Linked DNA regions of Homo sapiens: region 2 is linked to region 1. Evidence: fine-mapped expression QTL. Tissue or cell type: testis. Region 1 holds a variant in brackets; the other region holds the start of a gene. All regions are shown on one strand. Distances are between the middles of the regions.

Region 1 (5,725 bases):
CAGAGGGATAGCATGAATCAAAGCTTTGTGAGTGAATGGTTAGGTCAGGGGTTCCTAACCTTTTTTGTGCCAGAACCCCTTCGGCCATCTAGTGAAGCCCACTGAACCTTTCTCAAAATAATGTTTTTAAATGAATAAAATGAAATACATAAGACTATGAAGGGAACCAGTTATATATTCTATATATGGCTATCAAAAGATAAAAATCTCAAAGATATGATATAGTAATATATATCCTTCATTATTAATGCATTAAATAACAAGATCTAGTGGTGAGAAGTATTGATGAACATAAGTGCTATTTCTGTAACAATTAATTATAAAGTGAGATGAAAATATCTGTGATTTCTAAGAGTGACAGAGTCATAGATACTGTTCATGTTACAGTGATTACATTAGCAGATAGTAAAACTAAAGAAGTAAACTTGCCCCATTCAAGTTCACATATTCAAGGGTCTTTGGATGCCAAGTTAAGAACCCTTAGGTTTAGGGTAAGGCTCATGTTCTTTTATTTATGTTGCCAATCCTCTGGTAAAGGAAGTGCTAGTGAACAAAGATAGAATAGTAGCAGCAGCAGTAATAGTAATAGTAGTAATAAGAGTAGAAACAGTAAAAGAAGTAGCAGACGCCACAGTAGTAGTAGTAGTCATATTCATAGTCATAGCAGCAGTAGTGATGGTAGTAATAGGTACTGAGTACTTACTACCTGCCAAGAACTCTTCTAAGTGCTTTACAAATAAAGGGCAGAAGTGAGGCAAGCTCTCTATAAAGAGGAAAGAAGGGCCGGGTGCAGTGGCTCACGCCTGTAATCCCAGCACTTTGGGAGGCCGAGATGGGTGGATCATTTGAGGTCAGTAGTTTGAGACCATCCTGGCCAATATGGTGAAACCCCATCTCTACTAAAAATACAAAAGTTAGCTGGGTGTCGTGGTGTACACCTGTAATCCCAGCTATTTGGGAGGCTGAGGCAGGAGAATCGCTTGAACCCGGGAGGCGCAGTTTGCGGTGAGCCAAGTTCATGCCACTGCACTGCAGTCTGAGCAACAGAGTGAGACCCTGTCTCAAAGAAAAAAAACAAAAAACAAAAAAAAAGGAAAGAAATCCGAATAATCCACAGACTAAGTAGATAACCCAAATAACTAAAAATTCATCATGTTTTTAATGTATTAAGTATTTTTAACTTTCTGGAAAAAGAAATAGAAGAGTTTGACTCTGTTTGAGTTTGGAAATGATTACAATCGGGTCTAAAATTCTAGAATTTTTTGAAAGTCATAGGTGTTGAAATGCTGAATTACAGCTTTGTAGCTCATGTGAATATGTATGTTTTTAATAGTATTCATAAGAATATAGGATATAGTATAGCACAGCTTAAGTATTCTATAGCCTGCATGAAAAATGTATAAAATTATAAATTTTGGGGGAAAGTTATTAATCTGGTTAAAGTGAATTTTACAGTATTTTTGTACTTTGAGAACCCGAACTTTTTATTATATTCTTTTTTCATTTTAGCTCCAACTAATCATTTTCTCAGAATTAAAGAGATGCTTTCTCAGTACCATCAGTTTAGCATTAAAATATTCTGAGCCCTCCCATGTATCTTTTCCTTCCACAACTGTATCATAAGTTCTTTGAGGACAAAGAGATCTGTCATATATTTTGCATTTGTCACAGCACCTGGGATTGTGGGCACTTCAGTTGGTAGATGAATTACTTGTAAAATAGTTTGAAAGGCTGGGCACATTGGCTCATGCCTGTAATCCCAGCACTTTGGGAGGCTGAGCTGGGCAGATCACCTGAGGTCAGGAGTTCGAGACCAGCCTGGCCAATATGGCGAAACCCCAGCTCTACTAAAAATACAAAACTTAGCCAGGCATGGTGGTGCATGCCTGTAATCCTAGCTACTCAGGAGGCTGTGACAGGAGAATCACTTGAACCCAGGAGACAGAGGTCGCAATGAGCCAAGATTGTGCCACTGCACTCTAGCCTGGGCAACAGAGCGAGACTCCATCTCAAAAATAAATAAATTAATTAATTAAATAAAATAGTTTGAAAAAGTCCATTTTCAATCAAGACTCCATGTTCAATATTATTCTAAGTATCTAGACAATTCTATGCCTTCCACATCAATGTCATGAGATTTGCTGCTTTTGTATCTGTTTATATGGTGATCTGGAACTATTTCTGCTCTCATATATTGAAAATTGTTTAAGACACATGCATTATTTTCCTCTAATTGAAGGCACAAGCAGAAATGATTAAAGAGTAAATATTTGCGGTGAGCCCAGGTCTGAATGGCGTACAGTTTCTTTGGTATGCAGATTCTTTTGCAGTTCAGTATCCTTCAGTCAGTAAACTTGTACTGAATGCCTCCTGTGGTCTAGGACAGATCAATTCAGGTACAGAGAGACAAAGCAACGTTAGTGAACCTGAGAGAAGGCATAGCGAGGGTGGGGCTCCACATGTTGTTTGCTTTTGCTGAATTTTAGTGTGCACTGAGTGACAGGTAAAGAGCTGGAGAGGTAGGAAAGAGACAGAGATGATGGGGCTGTGAGAAATGGAGAAGATGCCTCCCTGGAGGCCCTTAGACACTGAGTGGGTATTTTTGGGGGGTAAGTGGGCATAAGGGAAGAGAGAGACTTAAGGAACTGCTATCCTTGGAAATTCTGCCTAATGGCCTGATAATCAAAACATTTATCCAACTCACTATGGGCTCCAAAAGAGATTTTGTATAAAGAGACAAGAAATTTATCTTCTGATTTGATTATCTATAAAATAAAATAAGAGTGGATGTTCATATATTTCTGCTTGGTATAGAGACAGCTCCTATAGAGAATAAACTTAATGAAAAAGAATGCTTTTTTGTAAAAGAAATCATCTTTTACTTTTATTGTCTAAGTAATAACAGGTAGTATTTTTTGAGCATCTACTATGTGCCACCATTGATGTTAAGGGCTTTAAAATATTATTGTCACTATAATTATGATTATTAGCAACTAATGTTTATTCAATATTTACTATGTGCCAGGATCTGTTCTAAGAGTTTCATATGTTTTAACTCATCTAATTTTAACAATCTTATGAGGTATGCACTTTATTTTCCTTGTTTTCAAATGTTGAGACTAAGGTACAGAGAGGTCAAGTAACTTGCCCAAAGTCACACAACTATCAAGGAGCAGAGCTGAGGTTTGATGTCACAGAGGGGTCAAGATACAGTCATATTTATTAAACAGGTAAGGTTGGCCGGGCACGGTGGCTTATACTGGTAATCCCAGCACTGATCACCTGAGGTCAGGAGTTTGAGATCAGCCTGGCCAACATGGTGAAACTCCATCTTTACTAAAAATACAAAAATTAGTTGGGTGCGGTGGCGGGTGTCTGTAATCCCAGCTATTCGGGAGGCTGAGGTGGGAGAATCGCTTGAACCTGGGAGGCGGAGGTTCCAGTGCGCTGAGATCACACCACTGCACTCCAGCCTGGGTGACAGAGCAAGACTCCGTCTCA[A/G]CAAAAACAACAACAAAAAGATAATGTTATATAACATGTCTACTAAGTGCCTATCACATAATAGATATCCCTAAATTTTTTAATTTTTGTCTCCTCCATCTTCCTTCTTGTCCCCTCCTCAACTTACTAAAAGAATGACTTTAATTTACAGGAAGAGCCCACACAAATACTCACACTGCTTTTTGTTTTTCTCATCATCATTCTTAGGCTTTTTGGTAAAGGTGCTTATATGATGTGAAACACAACGAAAGAAAAAAAATTCCTTTTCTGAAAAAAAGCAAATGCTTCATTTATTTACCTTAAACAATTTAGTGGCTAACAAATGTAGCTTTTTTTTTTTTTTTTTTGAGACGGAGTTTTGCTCTTCTTGCCAAAAATGTAGGTTTAAAACAGTATATTGGAAGTCCTAGAAGATGAGGGAAGGAGGGCAAGGAACAAACATTGATTGAAAACCTCTTAGCTCCTACGTAGAGTGCTAGAAACTTTATGTATGATTGCTTATTTATTGTTCACAACAACCCCTGTAAGGTATTGCTTATCAGCCCTATTTTGTGGATAGAATGTCCAAGGCTAAGAGAATTCAGACAGCTTCTTTGTTAGGAAGGGATGGAGCCCAGAATTCTCTGATGTCTATAGTGCTGTTGCCTCCCTCTCAGACCCAGGAACCATGTCTTTAGAATATTGATCGCAGGAAGTTTCCAGCTTGGGAATTCCAACAAGAAAGAGATGATGCTAAAGGATTTACTAATGCCGAATTTTACTGGCAAAAAATTACTCTTTTATTACAAACAAATTCCTGAACAACACAGCTGTTTCCGCTTTTGAATCCTTGTTGGCTATGTTAAGCAGCATTTGGCTGAATGCTAATCCTTAGATTAAGCATCTCTTAATCAATTTGTCCATCATTACTTTGAGCTTACAAACTGTTGTTCCATGAATAGTGGTTGTCTTTAAGAGGCAGTAAGAAAAGTATCAGCGTCATTATTTGCTGTTTCATACCCCTGTGACAGTACTCACAGTCTGTGATGGGTGACAGAGGAAGCGGGGCAAAGGGGAATGGTTATGATTTCATTTCCACAGGCAGGTGACTGGTGGGCATATAGTAATATTGCTAAGGGCCTGTGCTTTGGCTTAAGGTTAGTTTCTGTTTTCATGCTTGCTTCTCCGACTTGACTCCCTGTTTGAGGCGAAGGAAAAACATTCATGTCATCTGCATCATCTGCATCCTGTTGGCATAACATTGTGCATTGAAGGATTAATCAACATAACAGTTTTTTTCATTTTTTTCAGCCTACTTCATGCTTTGAACAGAAGAGTTTTATCAGTTTTAAATGTTTCTTCATTTCTATACCTTCTTTTATCTGAGGAGCTTAAGCCATTTTGTAGAGGCATTAAGTATTGCCTCAGTCTTAATATGTGAGACAAGGTAAGTAATTCTTTTATTTTATTATACTTTAAGTTTTAGGGTACATGTGCACAATGTGCAGGTTAGTTACATATGTATACATGTGCCATGTTGGTGTGCTGCACCCAGTAACTCATCATTTAGCATTAGGTATATCTCCTAATGCTATCCCTCCCCCCTCCCCCCACCCCACAACAGGCCCCGGTGTGATGTTCCCCTTCCTGTGTCCATGTGTTCTCATTGTTCAATTCCCACCTATGAGTGAGAACATGCGGTGTTTGGTTTTTTGTCCTTCTTGCAGCTCTTGCCAATAGCACGTGAACCCAGTGATGGGGAACTGTGTTTGTGTCCTTCCATACAGGGTGCTTGGTAAATACCTATAGTTGAGCCTTTATTATTATTATTATTATACTTTAAGTTTTAGGGTACATGTGCACAACATGCAGGTTTGTTACATATGTATACCAACATGGCACATGTATACATATGTAGAGCCTTTTCTTCCCACTTTAACTGAGGGTAGGAAATCAGATCTCATGTTGGCCATAGCCAAGGCTCGTTTTCTCCAGATTCATCCCTACCCTTCTTCCCTTTCCCAGCACCTCTGGTAGTTCAAAAAGGAGCAGAGTAAAGAGAGTCAGTCCTAAACCCAGTTCCTATGGACTGCTAATTCTAACATTTGTGACATTTTGGGCTCAGCTTTCTAATTTGTAATCATGGTCTACAATTTCAATCCCATCTGTCTGATAGTCCCTGTCTTCCTCCTATTTCTCCTGCTCAGCTTTGCTGTGTTACCCACCCATGCCCCAGGATGCCAGG
Region 2 (5,363 bases), 150 kb before region 1:
TTGATTCATACCATTAATTACGGCGCGTAGCGTGAAAAGCAACGCTTCCCCTCGGTTAGAGATCTATTGTGCTAATCTCTTGTTCAATCAGTGTTACCATCTGATGCTGGGTCCGGCCCTTACAGAAACTTTTCGACTCGATTAGCTAAATGATGAGACGTGCACAACCTACTGGCTGCGGCCCCGACGTCCCGCGCCCGCGCCGGCCTAATATCGATTTCCAGCGGAGGCAGAGGATTTTTCCGCGGCCGCTCTCGGCTCAGGAACCGGCCGCCGGCTTTCTCCCTCCAGGCGGACCATAGCGCCTGCACAACCTCCGGGGGCGGGAAGGAGGCGAAGCGGCGGCCGGGGAGGGCGACAGGAAGGTTCCTGCTGGCCTTGACGCAGGAGGCCGCCCCAGCGGAAGGGTCCGATCCCGACGCGGTGCAGGGTCCTGCCGGAGACCGGCTAGATGTCGGGCTAAATAAATTGTTTGCCGCGTAGTTGCAGTTTGCAGCTAAAAGCTCACAGGTCGTCAGTTACCGCCAAGCTGTAGGACAGAGACGGAAGAAGCGAGACAGATACAGAGAGAAAGTGAGACACATGTAGTGGGGGGAAGAAAATGTGATAAAGGGTGTATGTGGATAAAAAGTTTCTGAGTCTCAAAGGGTTATTGGAGAGATAGAGGGAGAATGAGTAGACACACACACGCAATTATGAGTTTGAGTGACTCTTTGAGTCTCAACAAGCGAACTTCCCAGGAGAGATTTAAAAAGGAAGATGGCAGCCAGCTGCCTCACCTGCTCAAATGTTTGAAATGTTTCAACCAAAGGAGAATGGAATGAAACCCCTTCGGTTCCTCTGGAGCGGGCAGAGTACATGGTACCCCGCTGGGAAAGCCACCTGGACGCGGTGGGAATGAGGGGTGCGGGGAGTGGGGATCTAGGTTCTAGCAACAGGAGGCAAGAAGAATGGAGTCCGGATCGATAGGAAGGAAATTGAGACGTCTCCAGGGGAGGGGAGATTTAGTGTGTGCGTCCAGTGGGGGGATGGGGGGGAAGAAATGGATAGAAAAATTTATGATGGAGAAAGGGAAATTAATTACAGCTCATTTTGGGTTCTTAGGTGGTCAACACTGGAGGAGGGGCACGGTTAGAGTGCGGAAGGCGGGAATTGCCCACCTACCCCTCACCAGGCCCAAGTGAACCCATATGCCTCTTTTCTCCTCTTTTAAGTCAGAGACAGTGCCAGTGGCTTGAATAAGTCGTTGGCGCGATGTGAGATAGAATCATCATGCCCGCGCGCGGGTGCACTTTTCTTACAATACGGGGAGTTGGGACCAGGTTCCGCGGAGTGAAGGGCGCGTCCCCCACCAAGAGTAGTTACTCTTTGTCCAAGAGGGAGCAAAACGTGGGTGGGACTATTAGAAAAATTCCCCTCCTTTCTCCCCAACACCCCCGCGCCCGCAACAATCAAAGTCTGCTGCTTCTTGAAAATCTTCATAGATTTGTTAAACTATTACCGGCCTCTTTGTCTGGATGGCCGCCACCAAGGAAGGTGGGAAAGGGCAGAGGTGGTACCCAAGGCCCCAACCCACCCAGATTACTTCCATTTCCCAAAGCGGGGGATTTTCAACTCTCTTACCCACCACTACCCCCTTGTATACCTCTCCGGATCTTTTCGGGGTGGAAAAAAAGAGGCTATTTTAATGTTCTTGTTTGGATTTGCATCTCAAAACTTCATTTATTTTCAAGATGTCTGCCACTCAGGGTCCACGCCAAGGCGTGCCTGTAAATGGCGAGAGACCAAAAGGAAAGGAGGAGAGAAAGAGGAAGAGAGAGAGGATGGTTTCGAATTTATTTATATTGGAAATATATAAACATCCATTCTGTAAAAGGCAACACGTTTAATTAACGATGAGAGAGCAGTTAGGGGCAGAAAGCTAGTAAAATTGTGTGATAAATTTATGGCATTGTTAGCGTGCTTTTAATTATGGCTATTATGTTAATTATTTCACATTAGCATGGAGTTATCAGCAGCATGTCGGATTTAATAAAAACGAGCCTTTCTCTCGAAAATTGTTCTTTTCATCCACGAGGAGAAAGGTCCTGGACAGGATCGGGGCTTAAAAATGACTTGGCATTGAAAGCCGGAGTCTTTCTGACACCGTTTGGAGCGATGCGGCCAGGCCCGGCTGTCCGCTGGGTCCCTCCAGGCTACCGGCAGCTCGAGGAGGAGCCCAGGGCTGGGTTTTTAGGAATTCACCATTTTCACCCCCTTCGGAGCCGACACTTCATCATGCGAGATCATTCTGTCAAACAATATGATGCTGCTCATTTTTATCTGTCCCGCTTTACAAAATCCCCATTCAGCCGGCCGAGGAGCAACAAAAGCCTCTGAGCAGCTCCGCAGCCACTGGCGGCCACAGCCTCCCCGGCGCGCGAGAAAGGCGAGAGGGGCCGAGGAAAGCAGGCGGCGGGCGCGCGCCCCTCTCCGCCGGAGGGAACGCTGCCTGCCGGGGCCTGCCAGCCCAGGTGTCGGGTCCTCGGGTGTGGCCCGGGCGGGACACGCCTCCCTCAGGCCCGCGCCCGCCCTCGGCCTCCCTGCAGGCGCCGGGCGAAAGCCCCCAATCCCTCCCCTCAAGCGACTCGCCCACCCAGGCCACATCGATTCTTTAATCACCGCCGATCGATTTATTGGGAGCAAATAAATAGACCGTTTTGGAAACGTTTCAATTGCTGGCTTGACGGTTGGGGCGCTGACGCGGGAGGGCGGGCAGGGCCGTGGGGCGCGCGCGGGAAGGGACTTGTGGGAAGGAAGGGAGCGGAAAGGCCGAGCGCCACCCGCCCCGGGAGTCTCCAGAGCAGCGCGCGGGGCAGACCTCCTCGGGTCCTCCGGCGCTTCGGTCTCCGGAGACGCCCGGCCTCCTGAAGGGTTCGGCTTGTCCTCCTCTGGCGCTCAGCTCCCTCTGGCGGCCGGGCTGGCAGGACCTCAGCGCCCAGCCCTTCCGTCTTGTTACGTCCAGGCAAGTTGGCCTGGCTTTCGGATGCCTCTGGACAGTCCCCGTCCAGGCCCGCGACCCAGCCCGAATGGAGGCCCCGGGGCCCACAGAGCGCGGCCTCCCAGGCCTTCCAGCCCTGGCTGCGGACGCCGCAGCCTTCTCGCCCCTGGGCCGGACGCGGCCTTCCTGCCCAAGACCACTGGGGCCCCCGCCCCTCCCGGGACAGGGCTGTGGACAGGCCAGCTGCTGCCTTATTTTTAGCGCCATTCCATTCGCGCGGTTATATTTAACTCGACCCACTCCTCCGAGGAGGTCGCTCGGACATCGAATTCTCCACATCGCAGCTTGGGCCTGCCCGCCTTGCCTCAGGGGTAGTTCCTCAAGGGACAGATTGGAAAACCCCTGCTTAAGAATCCTTGACATATCTGGAGCTTGGAGAGGACGGGACTGGGGGAGAGATCTGGTTCTAGGGGCAGTGGCCACCGCGCCTGCAGTGCACTGCGTGGGGATTCCGCCTTGTGTGGGGCGGGGGAGGGGAGGAAGGGACAGGATCAGTCCTGTGGGAAGGATTCTCTGCGGGGAGTATTGTGTCCATTTCCTACTTCTGCATGACTCAGAACACTAGGTGACCTGGAAGACCTCTCACGACCCTGCCCTTGGAAAAGTTTATCATTTAGCGTGAGTGCAGGAATCCCCTCTTCTCTACCCTCCAGTGCACCCAACGGGATATTTGATTTCAATGGTATGTTAGCTCCTTAGTTCCAGCCCAGTCTTCCCTTGGCAAAATCTTAAAAAGACCATGCCAAAGGCTCACTCACATCCTGGGGAAAGGACCCACTTGGATAACATACGGAAACACCATTGTGATACACGCTTTATTCACACAGAATGTCAGTTAGCAAACAATGCAGAAGTCATGTACTAAAGGTACACTAACAGATGTGACATGGATCGCGGATATCGAAACACATTTTTTTGTTTTTCTTTGAGACAGGGTCTCACTCTGTGTCTCAGGCTGGAGTACAGTGGTGCAATTGTAGATGGCTGCAGCCCTCGACCTCCTGGGCTCAAGTGATCCTCCTGCCTTAGCCTCTCGAGTAGCTGGGAGTACAGATGCACACCACCACACCCAGGTAATTTTTTATTTTTATTTTTTGTAGAGATGGGATCTCGCTCTGTTGCCCAGGCTAGTCTCAAGCTCTTGGCCTCAAACGATCCTCCCACCTCAGCCTCTCAAAGTGCTGGGATTAAAGGTGTGAACCATCCTGCCAGGCCAAAACACATTTTAAAAATTTAAATTCTTCTAACATTTTTAAAGAAACAAGTTTTCCTTGGGTCAAAGCTGCCTTTTTTGGTAACTCTCATTTTAATCCAAAATTTCTTGGATTTAAGTCATACCCACAGCTGAATTCAGGGGGAGAGGATATATAAGTATACAATATATATTTATTTACTCATTTATTCCTTATTAGTAATTTATTGAACTGTTGTAGACCTGGAAAGTACCAGGAATGAAAAGAAGAATTAAACCCAAGGTTCCTTAAGGAAGAACCAGGCAAGAGAATCAGTGTTTGTCATGCAGGTTGATAGGTGCCATGGCAAGGGGAAACAGCGCAGAGGAGGGCCTTTCTCACTGGGTAGGGATAGAGAAAGTGTGAAGCCTTCAATACGGAAGATGCTACTGACCAGCTACCTCTGACTTTAGGGGTTTTCAGGGGAGATTGGGGAGAAGTAAGTTAGAACCCGGGATACTTTGGGAAAAGAAAGTGCTAAGTTGGATGCCTAATGGTACTTCTGGACAGCCAGAAAGTACTTGGTCTCAAGGGAAATGGACAATAGATGTATGATAAGGAAACAGAAAGGGATGGAAGAAGAGAGAAGGGAAATGTAAAAATTGAAATTTGCTTAGACATTTTGTCTAGGTATAGTACATTTAGACTACATGGAAGTATTTGACTAACAAACACATGGAAGAAATTTAAAAGGGAACGTAGATAAAGGAAAAGATCCTTTGAAAAGAAAATATTCAAAAGGCTAGTTGTTAGACCCAGCTGTTTTTCTAACCTTATCGTATTCATCAAGGGCCAGACACTGGAACCACAAAGGTGAGTAAGAAGATAGATTCCACCTTTAGAATGTTAATTCCAGAAGGGCAGGAATTTTTATCTGTTCACTGTTGTATCCCTAGCCTCCAGCCAAGTACTAGTGGTGTAGGGGTGGAGGTGTGGCTCAATAAATATTGCTTGAATAACCCGATCAGTAAGACACATTCTCACTCTAATGGGGGACTTATTCAGGGAAGTCCATAGCTAAAATGTAGTGTGATGAGTTATAAATATATGATAGAATGTTACAGGAGCGCAAAAGAAACATAACTAACTCT

Alleles and levels. Alleles are on the strand shown, and positions count from the first base shown. SD is a standard deviation of normalised expression in the study named.
As copies of G replace A in region 1, the expression in testis of the gene that starts at base 2,805 in region 2 goes up (small effect, 0.14 SD a copy in GTEx).

Evidence for each region. PIP is the estimated chance that this variant, and not a neighbour inherited with it, causes the effect.
Region 2: it holds the start of LINC00466, and the variant in region 1 is fine-mapped to the expression of LINC00466 in testis (GTEx, PIP above 0.99).

What each region holds. Positions count from the first base shown.
Region 1 is chr1:63,161,749-63,167,473 of GRCh38, reverse strand. It overlaps LINC00466 (long intergenic non-protein coding RNA 466), which reads left to right. Exons shown (of 12, transcript NR_038252.3): 8 at 3,119-3,230; 9 at 4,792-4,927. Among named protein-coding and RNA genes, the nearest start is that of LINC01739, 150 kb to the right of the region's middle. The variant A/G (reference allele first, on the strand shown) is at 3,502.
Region 2 is chr1:63,314,699-63,320,061 of GRCh38, reverse strand. It overlaps LINC00466 (long intergenic non-protein coding RNA 466), which reads left to right and starts at 2,805. Exons shown (of 12, transcript NR_038252.3): 1 at 2,805-3,004; 2 at 3,975-4,113. RefSeq lists a silencer at 2,480-2,659.